4 linked regions of the Homo sapiens genome follow. The gene in region 1 interacts genetically with each later gene. Each region holds a gene or a part of one and is shown on either strand. Other genes may lie near its edges.

What was found.
Region 2: of ATG7 (region 1) and PCYT2, changing one suppresses a phenotype caused by changing the other (phenotypic suppression), as found in Homo sapiens cells (one large-scale study listed by BioGRID).
Region 3: of ATG7 (region 1) and KCTD10, changing one suppresses a phenotype caused by changing the other (phenotypic suppression), as found in Homo sapiens cells (one large-scale study listed by BioGRID).
Region 4: of ATG7 (region 1) and ATIC, changing one suppresses a phenotype caused by changing the other (phenotypic suppression), as found in Homo sapiens cells (one large-scale study listed by BioGRID).

Annotation. Positions count from the first base shown.
Region 1 is NC_000003.12:11,362,049-11,367,299, forward strand, and holds part of ATG7 (ubiquitin-like modifier-activating enzyme ATG7), read left to right. Parts: intron 1-764; coding exon 765-880; intron 881-2,610; coding exon 2,611-2,686; intron 2,687-5,251. UniProt on the Homo sapiens protein: E1-like activating enzyme involved in the 2 ubiquitin-like systems required for cytoplasm to vacuole transport (Cvt) and autophagy.
Region 2 is NC_000017.11:81,904,900-81,908,399, reverse strand, and holds part of PCYT2 (ethanolamine-phosphate cytidylyltransferase), read left to right. Parts: intron 1-542; coding exon 543-627; intron 628-801; coding exon 802-846; intron 847-1,142; coding exon of another isoform or gene 1,143-1,196; intron 1,197-1,501; coding exon 1,502-1,640; intron 1,641-1,853; coding exon 1,854-1,936; intron 1,937-2,222; coding exon 2,223-2,300; intron 2,301-2,664; coding exon 2,665-2,730; intron 2,731-2,952; coding exon 2,953-3,018; intron 3,019-3,245; coding exon 3,246-3,334; intron 3,335-3,455; coding exon 3,456-3,500. UniProt on the Homo sapiens protein: Ethanolamine-phosphate cytidylyltransferase that catalyzes the second step in the synthesis of phosphatidylethanolamine (PE) from ethanolamine via the CDP-ethanolamine pathway.
Region 3 is NC_000012.12:109,467,301-109,470,800, reverse strand, and holds part of KCTD10 (BTB/POZ domain-containing adapter for CUL3-mediated RhoA degradation protein 3), read left to right. Parts: intron 1-1,072; coding exon 1,073-1,286; intron 1,287-3,500. UniProt on the Homo sapiens protein: Substrate-specific adapter of a BCR (BTB-CUL3-RBX1) E3 ubiquitin-protein ligase complex. The BCR(BACURD3) E3 ubiquitin ligase complex mediates the ubiquitination of target proteins, leading to their degradation by the proteasome.
Region 4 is NC_000002.12:215,343,059-215,346,558, forward strand, and holds part of ATIC (bifunctional purine biosynthesis protein ATIC), read left to right. Parts: intron 1-1,720; coding exon 1,721-1,813; intron 1,814-3,500. UniProt on the Homo sapiens protein: Bifunctional enzyme that catalyzes the last two steps of purine biosynthesis.

The sequences.
Region 1 (5,251 bases):
CTCTGTTATGGTGTTATAATATATAGCTGGTCTTGTTATTTAGTGATTGTCAACAAATACGATTAGTGGTCCCTTGCAGTAAAGTCCCATCTGCTCATAAGGTAAAATTTTTATAGAGTCAAAAATATCTCTAACAACCTCTTAATTTGCCCAGAGTTGGATGGTTAGACTCTCTTTGGTTGAACCAGCAAAGGCTTGTGCTTAGAGCCATGTTGTAGAAAAAAAAAATACTTGTAGTAAACCCTAGAATCACACAGAGAGGTGATGCCCATGTTGTGAGAGGCACATAGGAACTGAGGGCCGCAGGAATAGTAAATTGTTGCTCCCATCTCACGGTCACTTTGAGGTGTTAGCTCAGTTAAAATGGCAGGGCAGAATCATTTGCACTTTTCAAATCATTGTTCCTTTCTGTGTCTCTGTCACTTAACTACCAAGCACAGTAGAACTGAATTGAGTCACTTAAAGGAACACATGATGCAGTTCCATTATATGAGGCAGCTAAGCCCTCATTTTTGGTTAATATCCCCCAATCTGTTTAGGCTACTGATCCTTTTTAGCATATCACCTCATTTAGTTACCTAAATTGTATATTTTGTTTATCTTGATAATCTCAAGAAATGATGTACTTGAGGCTGGATGTTCTTTGCCAACAATGAGCATCTGGTTATAATTTAAAGCTTTGTCACAGAGGATTTCATACTTGAGACAGCTAGAGTTGAATGGAGTAGAACGTTCTGCACACACCAATGATTGTTTCTTTGCAGTCAACCAGAGACCGGACCTTGGACCAGCAGTGCACTGTGAGTCGTCCAGGACTGGCCGTGATTGCAGGAGCCCTGGCCGTGGAATTGATGGTATCTGTTTTGCAGCATCCAGAAGGGTGAGTTTGCTAGTAGGAGATGAGTATTTAAACAAAGCTTTTGTAGGCAGTTGTTCATCAGTGTCTCCCATGGCCTTTTCTCAGTCTGACTTTACAGAGAATTTCACTATTTCACCCTCAAAAAAACAAGACTAGAAAAAGCAGGTCTGGTTCTTTGGGCTGAGATAACTTGGCATGTTTCCTTTGTGGCCACATTTCTGCATCTTTCCGGACAAAGTCACTATGGTTTATTTTATTTTTCCAACGCTTATATAGGGCTTACTTTGTGCTAGGCACTGTTCTAAGCACCTTAGAAATTTTGCCTCCTTCAATCTTTTTTTTTTTTTTTAACGAGACGGAATTTCGCTCTTGTTGCCCAGGCTGGAGTGTAATGGCACGATTTTGGCTCACTGCAACCTCTGCCTTCTAGGTTCAAGTGATTCTCCTGCCTCAGCCTCCCAAGTAGCTGGAATTACAGGCATACGCCACCATGCCCGGCTGATTTTTGTATTTTTAGTAGAGATGGGGTTTTGCCATGTTGGTCAGGCTAGTCTTGAACCTCTGACCTCAGTGATCAGAAGTGATTCACCCACCTTATCCTCCCAAAGTGTTGGGATTACAGGCGTGAGCCATTGCACCCGGCCTCCTTTAATCTTCATAGCAAACATATTAGGAAAGAACTATTATTATTAGTCGCAGTTTTGATGGGGAAATCAAGGCATAGTGAGGATAAGTAAGTGGCCAAATTTACATAGTAAATGGAAAAGCCAGGGTTTAGCTCAACCAGTGTGGCTCCAGACTATGTTTAATGACTTTGTTATGCTGTTTGCAATACAGGCAGCAGAAAATCGAATTTTTGAAAGATTTATTTTTCCAGTTCTCAGAAAGTCAATATGCAAATTAACATGAATATTCTATTTCTTGTGTGACTCAAAGCTTTCCTCAGCAGTTGAAAATTGTGGTTGTATATGTAACTAGTATGGGTACTCTGAGATAAATGAAAAGCGGGGCTTTTTTGTCTTCCTCTTTGTCATCCACCTTAGCTATCTGTCATTTAAGTTTATTGCCACTCTCTGACAGGAAGTATTTGGGATAAAATCTTTGAGAGCTGACTTTATGCTTCCTTGACACTGAGCCTCTGTCTGCCACATTTGCCCTGGTCATAGTTTAAACACCAGGTCCTGTGTCACATCTTTTTGGTGCCACAAGTATCACTCCATTGTTCAGAGAGTAGTGTATTAGTTCTGCCCAATTCATTCTTCACTTTTATTTCTTCCATTTCATTAGCATTTATATCAGCTCAAGAAGTTAAGGTTAGAAAATTTTCCACTTCAAATTTTCAGTACAGAAATGTGCTGTGATGTTTGACAAGACTATTTCATAGTAAGTGAGTTAATGTTTATTGGCCTCTGATATGCCGAACATTGCACTCGGCAGTTGATGTAGTAGATTCCTCATTTATTAATCAGAGCTCCCTCATTCCTACTTTATAGATGATGGATCTGAAGCACAGAAAAGTTAAGCAACTTGCCTATGGTCACAAGCTCAGGTCTTTCTGACTCCAAACCATGCATGTTTAAATTACTCTTCTTGCCCTTTGTCCCAGGGAAATTAGTTTTTTGCTAACTTACACTGCCCAGCAAGGGGCATTTTAGTTATCCTTATGAATCTTATGTAGATTTCTGCTAGATCATCCTCCCATGTGTTAAACTTGGATTAAATGAGCAGCTCTGATTGTTTCCTGTCCTCAGGGGCTATGCCATTGCCAGCAGCAGTGACGATCGGATGAATGAGCCTCCAACCTCTCTTGGGCTTGTGCCTCACCAGGTTAGTGATGTGGAAGTGAAATCACAATTCTTTTGGTACAGGGGGAAAGCATGTGGGGTCTCTTTGCCATTCCATCTGCCCAGCCCACTTCATATCCACCCTACTTACCCTGCAGCTGGGATTTCAATGGGAGAGCTTTCTGACCACCTGGAAGGTATTCCATTCTGCGGGATAGTGATGGGAGGAAATCACGAACGAGAAGCATTGCCCAGAGTCTTTGATGCGTTTTGTAAACTGACTAGAGGCCTCATAATGCAATAGGAACAGAAAAAACAGGCTTTGGAATCAGTCATACAATGGTTTAAATCCCAGCCCTGCCGTTATAAAGATGGCCTTCTTTGGCCAAGTCACTAAACTTCTCTGAGGCTTAGTTTTCTTATCTGTAACATAGAGAAGGTAATGCTGACATCACCTGGTAGTTGTATGGATTATGGATGGTTGCTAGAAAGGGCTCAGCAACAGTGTATATCATAGGCCCTCAACAAACAATGCCTGCTGTTTCTTTACTGTTGCTTGTTATTATTATTGACTCTGAACCCAAATAGAAAACCTTTATAGGCAGGCATGAGAAAAACATTAGAAGCATGCAGGGTCACCAAAAAGTGGGGTGTCTTTTCAGAAAAAGAATCCAAAGCATCATGAGGAAGTTCCATCCCTTAGGGAGTAAAAAGAAAAAGGCAGTGGGATGATCTTTTAGAATTCATGTTGCCTCTTCAGTCATTTTCATTACTATATTTTTGGGAGATTGAAGAGGTTTTCCAGTCTTATTTGGAAATCATTTTTTTTTAGATTCCATGTATGTATCCTCTCCTGTAATGTGACTGCTGTTCCCATCAGTGAAATCGTGATGGTGCCCACCAGTCCTATCTGGTGATTTGCAAGGACAGACTCAGACGAGTGCAGAGAGCAGAGTGACTCAGCTCATGCTTGTCTCTCTCTTCCTCCTCGCCACCCACCTTCTGCCAGCTAGGGCGGCACTGTCATATTCAGTTTAGGATGAGAATCAGAAGAGGGGAAACGACTTCTTCATGGTCACAGAGACTTAGTGGATGAGCCACAATCCATACCTAAACTTGGCAGTCTGACAAATGTTCTTTCAAAGGTCTTGTGAGTTGAAAGATCCGTGGCCTGCATGTTGGGAGATTTTGCTTCCTGTTGGTACCCCAGCCCCCTTGCACAAAACCACCCATAATAGAACTTGTGGGCCGGGCGCGGTGACTCATGCCTGTAATTCCAGCACTTTGGGAGGCCGAGGCGGGTGGATCACGAGGAGAGGAGTTTGAGACCAGCCTGACCAACATGGTGAAACCCCGTCTCTACTAAAAATACAAAAATTAGCTGAGCGTGATAGTGTGCACCTGTAATCCCAGCTACTCAGGAGGCTGAGGCAGGAGAATCGCTTGAACCCGGGAGGTGGAGGGTTGCAGTGAGCTAAGATCGCGCCATTGCACTGTGGCCTGGGCGACAGAGTGAGACTCCATCTCAAAAAAAAAAAAAAAAAAAATAGAACTTGTAGAGTTCACTTAGCCTCCCAGAGTCTCAGTTTCCAAATCAAGAAAAGCAGGTGCTTTACTTTGTGTCCAGGATTACATCTGACACGGCCTTGAAAACCACAAAACACTATGAAAATGTGCCCCCCTCTGTCCCCCACACACAAGGTGGCATTTTTTTTTGACATGCATGTGTTAATCTTTTCTACAGAGACATTTCACGTAGGACCCAAAAGACGCGGTAATAACCATCTATCATAAGGAAGCTGATCTCCAGAGCCTACCTCTGCTATTTATGCTGTCGTATCTCATTTGAATCTTTCCCAAGTCTCCCGCCTTCTTCTGACCTTGAGATGTGCCCTCATCTCCTTTACAGACTTTATATTGAGAAGGGCCTTAATTAAATTTTCAGTCATGCCCCTGCACTGGTTTCCTTCTTTAAGTCCTTTATGTTAAATTACTGCAGTTGTAGTTTTCTCAGTGCTGAGGCCAGAGGGCAAAACAGTCTCTTTATAGAAGGGGCCCAGTGTCAAAATGCATGTGCCCATGTTTTTAAAGTACTATGGCAACTAATCCCTCTCGGTGTTATTTATCCCCATTGAGCCTCAGAATTATTTGTCATTCACCAACTCTTCTAGTTCTTTCTCCTCGTTTTCAAATGTCTGAAGGATTATTTTGGTTGTTGGCCATCTCTTCATTTGCCCTTTTCAAAGACTGAAGAATAACGCAGCCATATATGGGAAAAGCTGTGTGTGTGTGTGTGTGTGTGTGTGTGTGTGTGTGTGTGTGTTTACTTGCTTACATTGTTTCAAGTTTCAAGCCTTTATTTTTAGCTACTTTCTAAGAAAGAAAGTGGAGAAAGAACTTTAAAAATTAATCAGGGTTGTGTGGTCCCCATGTATAGGCTTTAAACAACTTTTTTCCCCCTAAGTGGAGTGAGTCCATTTATGCAACCATGTTTTGATTAGGGGACCATCGTTTCCACGTTTCCACAAAAACACTGGGCTGTGTTGCAATGCCCTGTTGCAAACTCAGCACTTCCCTCCTCCTCTTCCTGGCTCCTAGAGACAAATGA
Region 2 (3,500 bases), on another chromosome or scaffold:
GGCCTGGAGGCCCTTGCCATTTGGTGCTGCAGACCCATGGCCCCAGGGCTCCAAAGGCACAGCTTTGTGAGGTGGCAGCTGTTGAGCTCGGGGGACGTGGCTGGCACTGCTGGGGAGCTGGCACTATATCTGAATTACCAGACGTCAGGGACATGAGGCCAGTGGCTCCCGCATGAGATGCTGCAGCTGAGAATTCACTCAGCTGCAGATGCTCAGCGGGCAGGACGTGGGTGTGAGGGAGGCAGGAAGCAGAGCTGCTACCCCAGTGCCCATCCTCTCCCTGGCATTGCACACCTGGGCCCCAGCAAGGGTCCTTTTCTGTGCTCCTGCCACTCCCTTCAGTCAATAAAAGCGTGGAGGCCTTCCCCATGTTCCCAACCCAGGTTTTCTGTTATGGCCTTGCACAGGAAGGGGACCCTCAGTCTTTGGGGCAGCCGTGGGTTCTGCCACAGCAGGGCTGCTAGTGTCCCTAGTGGTGGTAGCAGGAGGCAGAGCCTTGCGAGTGTCCCAGGATGAGACCCCACTCCCACTGTGTCCCCCAGAGAATGCAAGCGCACGCAAGGGGTGTCCACCACAGACCTCGTGGGCCGCATGCTGCTGGTAACCAAAGCCCATCACAGCAGCCAGGTGAGTCGGCGGCGGAATCCCCGAGGCCCCTGGGTCGAGGTCTCCAGGGGAAAGGAGGGGCACCTCCCTGCCCTCTCAGGGTCCTCCTGCCCACTGCTCCCCATCCCCAGCCGGTTCTGGGGTGGCCACGCCGGGAGGGCAGGCCCCTCAGCCCTGCTCTGACCTTCTGTGCAGGAGATGTCCTCTGAGTACCGGGAGTATGCAGACAGTTTTGGCAAGGTGAGTGCGGCTGTGCAGGGAGAGCTGAGCACGCAGCTGCAGGGGGCTCCCCCGGCCACCTGTCCCAGCCATCCCTTGGGGAAAGGCCAGCCCAGAGCCTCACCCTCCTCCCTCTGTCCCTGGCACTGACCAGGCACTGACTGCCAGGTTTGGCTCACTGGTGGATGCTGGGAGGGAGGGCAGGCGGGTGGTGGCACCGGCTGGCCGGTCACGGCAGCCACTGCTTGGAGGAGCAAGGATTTGCCTGTGGACAGGTGGCCTCTAACCAAGTGGCCTGGCCCTCTCTCCCATTGTAGCCCCCTCACCCGATACCCGCCGGGGACATACTTTCCTCAGAAGGCTGCTCCCAGGTGACCAGACAGTGGTCTCAGGGTACCAGGTCCCTCCCAAGGGCTGTGTGCACCTGCCACAGGGCTCCTTGCCTCCTCCTGGTGGTCGCTTGCTGGGCTGAAGTGGTGTCTGCTGCGGTGCCTGCTGTGGTTGTGGGGTGGCGCCACAGTCCCACCTGCCACCTGGCCTGGCAGTGTGTCCCCTGCCCGAGATGACTGGCTGGAAATGGGATTGCTGGCAGGTGACAGCTGAGGGTTTGGTGACCTGGTGAGGGCAGCACCTGGGAGGCCTCCCCCGCCAACCTGCTCCCTCTCTTGGCTTGCAGTGCCCTGGTGGGCGGAACCCCTGGACCGGGGTATCCCAGTTCCTGCAGACATCTCAGAAGATCATCCAGTTTGCTTCTGGGAAGGAGCCCCAGCCAGGGGAGACAGTCATCTATGTGGCTGGTGCCTTCGACCTGTTCCGTATCCTCTGGGCCTCTGCTGCTCCCCTACATGTGCCACATGGGGTGGGACCCGGGGGCCTCACTTGACTCCTTGGGGCCCCCAGACTGGGCTGGCTGGTTTGCAGGGGAGCAGCTGTCAGCAGGGAGGATGGCGGGGAGGCCCTTGGGCATGAGCTGTCAGGGAGCTGCTCCCTGTCATCCCCATCCCGACTGCTTCTTAACCTGGGTGCAGACATCGGGCATGTGGACTTCCTGGAGAAGGTGCACAGGCTGGCAGAGAGGCCCTACATCATCGCGGGCTTACACTTTGACCAGGTCACTGCCTTCTTGCTCCCTGGGCCCCTGGGCAGCTGATGGGCCCTCGAGGGGCCCTAAGCGTTGCTGTTAGGTGCAGGTGGTCTCTGGGAAGGGGCCCCAGGTGAAGTCACAGGAGACCCTGGGGGGTGATCGTAGGCTTCTGGGGTCCAGGGCTGTCCTGTCTGGGGCATCCCCACAAGGGCGAGCAACCTCCCCGACTTCTTCCCATGAGGGACAGCCGGGAGGGGCACACCCTGTCCCCCCAAAAAGTCTCCGGGCTGAGCTAGCCGCACTCTGGCCGCAGGAGGTCAATCACTACAAGGGGAAGAACTACCCCATCATGAATCTGCATGAACGGACTCTGAGCGTGCTGGCCTGCCGGGTGAGTGGGGGCCAGGAGCCAGCCCAAGGATGGGGAGACATTCCCACAACATCCCCCCTACTAAGGGCCTCCCTGAGCCAGGGCAGGGGGGCTTGGGTCACTGGCAGAGCTGCACCCAGCACCCCGAGTTCTGTGGCACCTGCCCATACCTGTTTGTTGAGGCATGAGGAGGGGTGGTCAGGTCTCCAGATGCTGTTCCTTCTTGTCTCATGGAGGAGCCCCAGGGGTCCCCAGCCTGCCCAGCCCATCCCTGCTACTCACTGGCAGCCCCGCCCCATGTCTGAGCCGTCTCTCACCACCCTGTGGCCCTGGCTTACCAGTAGCAGGGACCGAGCAAGTCTTTCTGCCCCCACTGTCCCCACAGTACGTGTCAGAAGTGGTGATTGGAGCCCCGTACGCGGTCACAGCAGAGCTCCTAAGTCACTTCAAGGTGAGGCTCCGCATGGGCTCACCTCGTTCCCTCTGTTCACCTCTGTTCCTGCATGGGCTGGGAATGCAGGCTGGCTGTGGGCTCCTAGGCGGGGCCCAGGAGGTACCTGGGCTGAGGAAAGGGCAGGGTCAGCTCTCCCAACCCCCGGGGCCTGTGCTGGGCTGTGGGTGGCGACGGCCGCTGCCTCCCCGGGGAGGGCTCCTGACCCCACTCCTTCTCCAGGTGGACCTGGTGTGTCACGGCAAGACAGAAATTATCCCTGACAGGGATGGCTCCGACCCATACCAGGTGGGTCATGCTGGCCCTTGCTGGGCACAGGGGTTGCCATTGGCACCTCCCAGCCATTTAATGACTCACTGTGCCTGCCTGGGAAACGGGCATGGTGGCGCAGCTGCTCCGACTGCACCACTCCCATGGGACCCTGGGCGCTGGTCTCCCTCTGGGGCAGGGCATCAGATGGGTCTTGGGGAGGTCAGCAGGGACCTTCATCCCGCTCCTCCTCTCTGGACCCCCAGGAGCCCAAGAGAAGGGGCATCTTCCGTCAGATTGACAGTGGCAGCAACCTCACCACAGACCTCATCGTCCAGCGGATCATCACCAACAGGTGCAGTTGGGTGGGGGCACCTCGGAGCCGCCTCATGGGCGCTCTCCGCTAGACTTACCGTGCCCTCCCCCTCGGAGCCGCCTCATGGGCGCTCTCTGCTAGACTTACCCTGCCCTCTCAGGTTGGAGTATGAGGCGCGAAACCAGAAGAAGGAAGCCAAGGAGCT
Region 3 (3,500 bases), on another chromosome or scaffold:
AGCCAGGATAGGGGATCTTTGGTCATTTTTGTATTTTGGATAATGTTTATGTTTTTGTCTGTGTCCGGACATGATGACTGAATGGTCCTGTTTTTGTCTTGTCGCAAGGGCACAGAGTGGCCTTGTCTGAGGGTGATGTGCTGTGAAAAACTGTTGATGTTCAATGGGAATGGTAGGGCCAGCCGTGGGGGCTACCCCAGATTCAGCAAAGATTCTGCCCACCCTTGCACATCTCCACCTCTACAGTTTTACCTGTTCATTTCAGACATGTTTGCTCTGAGTACACATGTGCCGGATACCAATCTCACTTTCCAGGCCTGCGTAAATCAGCCACTGTATCCATTTCTTTGAGATGTACAGAGAGTCAGCCATGCTATCAGGGAGATGGTAGTGGGATCTTGCTCTTTTGGGCAGCACTAGTCTAGGAGGTCTAATTTTGCAATAACTTGGTTCCAAAAGTTTCCATGTCTGTTGTTTAGTCCTCAGAAACACCTTCTCCCTACAGGAAGTGATAGGAGTGCCAGCTGGAATCCCATTCAACTTCATAAAGCTTATTTCATCTGTGATGCAGCTGAAAAATGACACTTAGCTAGCTATTGAGTGGTACATGGCAATAAGGAAATGTAAAGAGACCTGGGCAGTGCTTTAGGCTGTTTTAGGGTGCAGCCAGGGTGTTCATGTATACAGGTGCTAGGCAGAAAGGAAGTGCTTATAACACAAGAGTTAGGGGCACCCTTGTGCCTGCAGGGTCGACAGGCAGGGTCAGTGTATGAGGCTTTTTGGGTGGGTTTTGGGACAAACTAGGGGATGCATGGCCCTCTCTAGGGGTCATCCAATACCCCAGCTCTGACCAGTTGTTCCCCTGCTAGCCCAGTTGGCCTCTGATTTTAGGAGAAGCCAGAAGTCCAGATTTTTCTGTGAGCTCTCCTTAGTTGTCCACATTGGAAGCAAACTTTTAAATGCTGTGTATGCGTGGCCCAAGCAAAACACATCTGGAGGCCAGATTGAATCCACAGGCTGAAAGCAGTCAACCAGGCCTGATGTCATGACCCTGTATCCTCTCCACTGGCAGGAAGAGATGTCAGGAGAAAGTGTGGTGAGCTCAGCGGTGCCAGCGGCTGCTACCCGCACCACTTCCTTCAAGGGCACGAGCCCCAGCTCCAAATACGTGAAGCTGAATGTGGGTGGAGCCCTCTACTATACCACCATGCAGACGCTGACCAAGCAGGACACCATGCTGAAGGCCATGTTCAGCGGGCGCATGGAAGTGCTCACCGACAGTGAAGGTAAGCTCACCCACCATGTGCCTGCCTCTGGCCATGCGTTATGTGGTCAAGGAGGGCTTCCCTGAAGAAGTGACATTTAAGTCGAGACCTGAAGATGTGTAGGAGGCAGCTTGTTGGGGACTCCCACCATCTTGACTTGGTCGTTGATTTGCTATGTTACTTTGAGAAAGTCACTTCCTCACCCAGGGCTTAGCTTGCTTATCTCTGCCATGCTTCTGTGACTTCAGAGTGAAACTCAAGCCTGGGGGAGAGAGAGGTATCTTCCCTGGACCCTTGTCCTCCCAAGATGGGGTCTTGACAAAGACTTGCCAACCTGGGTTTCAGTCTCAGCTCCCCATTAGTATCTGGTGATCCTAACCAAGTGGCCGAAGCTTTTGGTCTCATTTTCTTCCTCTGGTGAAATGGGCATGACAATACCCTCCCCCGTGGGGCCATCGGCACATAGTCAGTATTCAGTGCATGTGTGTATATGTGTGTGTGTAGATAGATAGATAGATATACACACACACACACACGTTTTTCTTTTTCTTGTGGAAAGTCATGTTATTAAAAGGCAAAGAATCGGCTGGGCACAGTGGCTCATGCATGTAATCCCAGCACTTTGGGAAGCTGAGGCGGGCGGATCACGAGGTCAGGAGATCGAGACCATCCTGGCTAACAAGGTGAAACCCCATCTCTACTAAAAATACAAAAAATTAGCCGGGCGTGGTGGTGGGTGCCTGTAGTCCCAGCTACTCGGGAGGCTGAGGCAGGAGAATGACGTGAACTCGGGAGGCGGAGCTTGCAGTGAGCTGAGATCGCGCCACTGCACTCCAGCCTGGGCGACAGAGCGAGACTCCGTCTCAAAAAAAAAAAAAAAAAGGCAAAGAATTGTTGAGAGGGGCATTGTCATAACTACTTCCTACTCACCTGGAATGATCAAAGAGCCCCTGACAACAGGGCTCCATCCTTACCTGGCTGGGTTTGCGTGCAGGTCACATGAGGTTTAAAAATAGTACCATCCTTCATTCCTTGGCCTGAGATTGCTTAAGACCAGGCCAGGGCACAGCCTGGCTTGACCTTGACCCCGCCTTCCTGTTTCTGAGACTGGTCTTCTGTGCTGCTGCCCTACCTTTCCAGGGACATTGACTTGGGAGGGTGGGTGAGTTTTCACATAAGCGGGTGGGATTGGGGGACCTAAGCCTGGTGTCCCACAGTTAATTCTCTGATCCTAAGAGGGCTGAGGCTTGGGCTACCCACTGGTGAGGACATTCCTCTCTGTGTCCTGGGGAAGGCCAGGGTGTGGGGCTGGAGGTTCTGCTTCCTGTGAACTCCGGTTTCTGTTCAGGCAGCAGCGAACTGAGGTTGGAGCCCCAAAGCTGCCATCTCACACTTAGCTTTTTATGAGTGGGAGGATCCTCTTTGCTGTGCCACACCCCACATGGCCCGAGAGTATCTGTGGAAATCAAGACAATAGCACCCCCGCTGCTGGAGGAAGCAGGCATTATCTGAGAACCAGGATTGTTGTGGTTTTTCTCATACCCTACCCACTCTCTGGAGGGGCTCAGGAAAGGCTGCTGAGTTGCCTCGAAAGCTGAGGCTCTTCTCCTCGAAAGGCCTCGCCTTGGTGGCCTGATGCCATATCAAAAAAGAAACGGACTCCTCTGTCCCCCTGTCCCCGACTGGACAGAGCATACGAGTGGTACTGGCAGGACTGCTCACCTTCTAAATCCCTGCTATGAGATGTTTTTCTCCTGGTGCTGCCTGGAAAACACAGGTTCTCGGGGGACACAGTGTCATTTTGACACTGCAAACTGTGACTTGTTTCATGTCACCGGAGCTCAGCCCCTGCTTCATATCATTATGAAAAGCTAATGGTATGGCATTTTATGGGGCATTCTTTTCTCTTTTTTTGAGACAGGGTCTTTCTCTGTCACCCAGGCTGAAGTGCACTAGGGCCATCATAGCTCACGGCAGCCTCCATCTCCTGGGTTCAAGCAATCCTCCCGCCTCAGCCTTCTGTGTAGCTGGGAATACAGGCATGCACCACCAAACACAGCTAATTTTTAGAATTTTTTTCTGGAGATGGGGCCTCACTATGTTGCCCAGGCTGGCCTCGAACTCCTGGGCTCAAGCCATCCTCTCACCTCAGCCTCCCAAAATGCTGGGATTACAGGCGTGAGCCACCACGCACAGCCGATGGGTATTGTTTCATTTAATCCTCACCATAACCCT
Region 4 (3,500 bases), on another chromosome or scaffold:
ATTGTTTTCCAGAGTGGCTTGTACCATTTTGTATTCCCACCAGCAATGGATGAGTGATCCAATGTCTCTGCATCCTTACTAGCTTTTGGTATTGCTACTTTTTTTTTTTTTTTAAAGACATGGGATAGTTGTGTAGCAATCTCTCACTGATTTTAATTTGCATAATAGCTCATGATGTTGAACATTTTTTTGTGTACTTATTTGCTACATGTGTATCCTTTTTGGTGAAAATGTCTGTCTTTTGCCCATTTTCTAATTAAATTTTTGATTGTTACTGAGTTTTTTTGTTTTGTTTTGAGATGAAGTCTCGCTCTGTCACCTAGACTGGAGTGCAGTGGCATGATCTTGTCTCACTGCAGCCTCCACCACCCGGGTTCAAGTGGTTCTCCTGTCTCAGCTTCCCAAGTAGCTGGGATTACAGGAATGCGCCACCACACCTGGCAAATTTTTATATTTTTAGTAGAGATGGGGTTCACCATGTTGGTCAGGCTGGCCTGGAACTTCTGACCTCAGGTGGTCCACCCGCCTTGGCCTCCCAAAGTGCTAGGATTACAGGCATGTGCCACTGCGCCTGTCCTGTTACAGAGTTTTTAAAGTTTTTTTATGTTTTAGGTGCTAGTTTGTTGTTGGATATGAGGTTTGTTAATAATTTTCTCCTAGTTCGTAGCTTGTCTTTTCATCCTCTTTAATGAGGAATCTTTTACAGAGGAAAAGTTCTTAATTTTACTGAAGTCAAATTTATCAACTTATCTGTTGGCTGTAGCAAATATCCTCTGTCCATTTAGCATACAGACGTGGACTATCATCCTTCTTTTCCATTTGTATTCATGCCTGATACTAAAGATAGTGATATTTTTGGGCGTTATTCTTGTTGTTCTATTTGGACTGGTAATTCCTAATGGTTTTTGAACAGTTTCAACTTAAGTTATTCTAAACAAAAGAGAAAATGATCGTAATTTGATTTTTCCAAAGTCTTGGCTGTCTGTGTGCATCATAACGATTTGTGATGTCTATGAAACAATTCTCCGCATTGGTTCTGAACGTAAATTTTACCATGTCTCCAGATATTTAAAAGTACTCTGGTCAAGAAAATATTGTTTGTCAGTTTTGGAATGGATATGGTAGTTCTTACCTCATGTGATATAAAAAGGCTTAATCCACAATTGCTACAAAATAACATGAGTTTGTGTCTATGGATGCATTGTGCTAAGTTCCACCCCAAATGTGTTAAATATTTAAGTAAATCATGGTAGTGTGTAGGAGAACAGTTAATTTCCCTCTGTCATTTGAGTGGTATAACTATGTTGTAGGTCTTTTACATTAAATAGAACTAAGAAACTTAAAGTTGGCCAGGTGTGGTGGCTCACACCTGTTGTAATCCTGGCACTCTGGGAGGCTGAGGCACGTAGATGACTTGAGCTCAGGAGTTCGAGACCAGCCTGGCCAACATGGTGAAACCCCATCTCTACTAAAAATACAAAAATTAGCCAGGCATGGTGGTGCATGCGCCTGTAATTGAAGTGTGAGAATCTCTTGCACCCGGGAGGTGGAGGTTACAGTGAGCCGAGATTGTGCCGTTGGAGATTGTCCCATTGTGCCTGGGAGACAGAGTGAGACTCTGACTCAAAAAAACCACAAAAAATAATATTTAAAAAAAGAAGCTTAAAGTTAAATGAGTTTAAAAGGCCCCATGCAATTTACCATTGTGTATGTGTTTCAGTTGCCAGAGTCTGCCCTCCGAGACCTCATCGTAGCCACCATTGCTGTCAAGTACACTCAGTCTAACTCTGTGTGCTACGCCAAGAACGGGCAGGTAAGTGGGCTGTTGGACTCGCCTTCGGGGGACTGTTGTTTTACGAAATGATATTTAAACATCCGTCTGCCTTAGATATTGGACAGCTTGAAAGGGAATATTTGCCAAATGTTTGTCTTTTGTGTTTGTCAGTGTTTCCTCAGTACCCTGGTGGGCTGTTAAAACTAATGATGATCAGAAAATATCTTTGGAACCAGGTACTCAAAGTAGTTGTGCTGCTTCTTGCCTTGAATAGGTTGGCACATTTTGGATTAGTGAGACTCTAATAGCTGTTACAAAACTGGATTATTTCCTTTCCTTTTCCCCCATTGGTATTATTTCCAGGGAAGAGGAGGTAAGTTACGGTACTGCCACCCACCAGCCTATATTTTTGCAGCCTGCAGGGTATTTTCACATTATTTCTTATGTTGTCTTATCAAGAATCTGCTGAGTAGAAAGACTGCTAGACTAGGAGTTAACTTCATCTTTAAAAAGTTAGGTTCATTGAGGCATAATTTGTATACAGTAGAATTCACCTTTTTAAAGTACAGTTTGACCAGTTTTCACAAATTTCACAGTATGTGACCGCTGCCACAATTAAATACCAAACATTTCTCACTGTGTGACGTTAAGCAAGATATTACACTTCTTTCCTAGTGTCCCGAGCCTCAGAATACAAGATGGAGCTGGTTCATCTCTGAGGTCTCTGCTAGCCTTTTCTTCACCTGGTGTCCTGAGCTTATCTCTTGGCATTTGTTAAATTATTTGGCCCACAAGTGACAGGGAGGTGGGTGGATATGAATTAGCCTATGGCCTGGAAGACCCCAGATTGCCAGTCTCTGTAGTAACAAACTCCTGGGAGATTGTGTCTACTGGTGTCAGGTTCTAAGAAGTTCTGTAAGTCCATGTAGAATGAGTGCTTCATTCCTGATGTTGAGGAGGAGGCGGCTGCCCAGGTATTTGTGGTCTCTTTTATTCTCTTGTAGCTGTGGGCAGGGTTGCCAGCAGCTGTGCTCAGAAAGAGATGGACTGTTGGGCAGACAGCTTAGGGGCTGTTCATTATAGGAACTAAAACCAGAAAACACACCTGTGCATTTAAGTCCTTGTTGCTTAGAATTCAACCCATAGAAATAGAGGAAAGAAGGAAGAACATTTGTACCTGGCGGAATTGTTTCTACTTTTAGCTACCCATGTCAGATCCTTATCTCAATTTCTGAGAGTTGATATTTTAACTGTAATTTATACACTGGGGCAAACAAAAGACTTTCAAGTAACCATAGTTATTTTTGTGGTCATTAGTTTTATTTATTTATTTATTTATTTTTTATAGAGACAGGGTCTTGCTCTGTTGCCCAGGCCAGAGTACAGTGACATGATCATAGCTCATTGTAGCCTTCGACTCCTGGCCTCAAGCGGTCCTACCACTTCAGCCTCCTGAGTAGCTGGGACTGCAGGTGTGCGCCACTACCCCTAGCTATTTTTTAATTCTTATTTTTTGTAGAGATGAGATGTTGCCATCTTGCCCAGGCTGGTCTCCTGAGCTCAAGCAATCCTTCTGTCCTAACCTCACAAAGTGCTGGGATTACAGGCATGAGCCAGTGCACCCAGCATTGGTCATTTATTTTAACTTTTTTTTTTTTTTGACCTCAAACCATCAATTTTATTGAATTGTAGATTATTAATAGTCATATGTCACATATCACTGAAG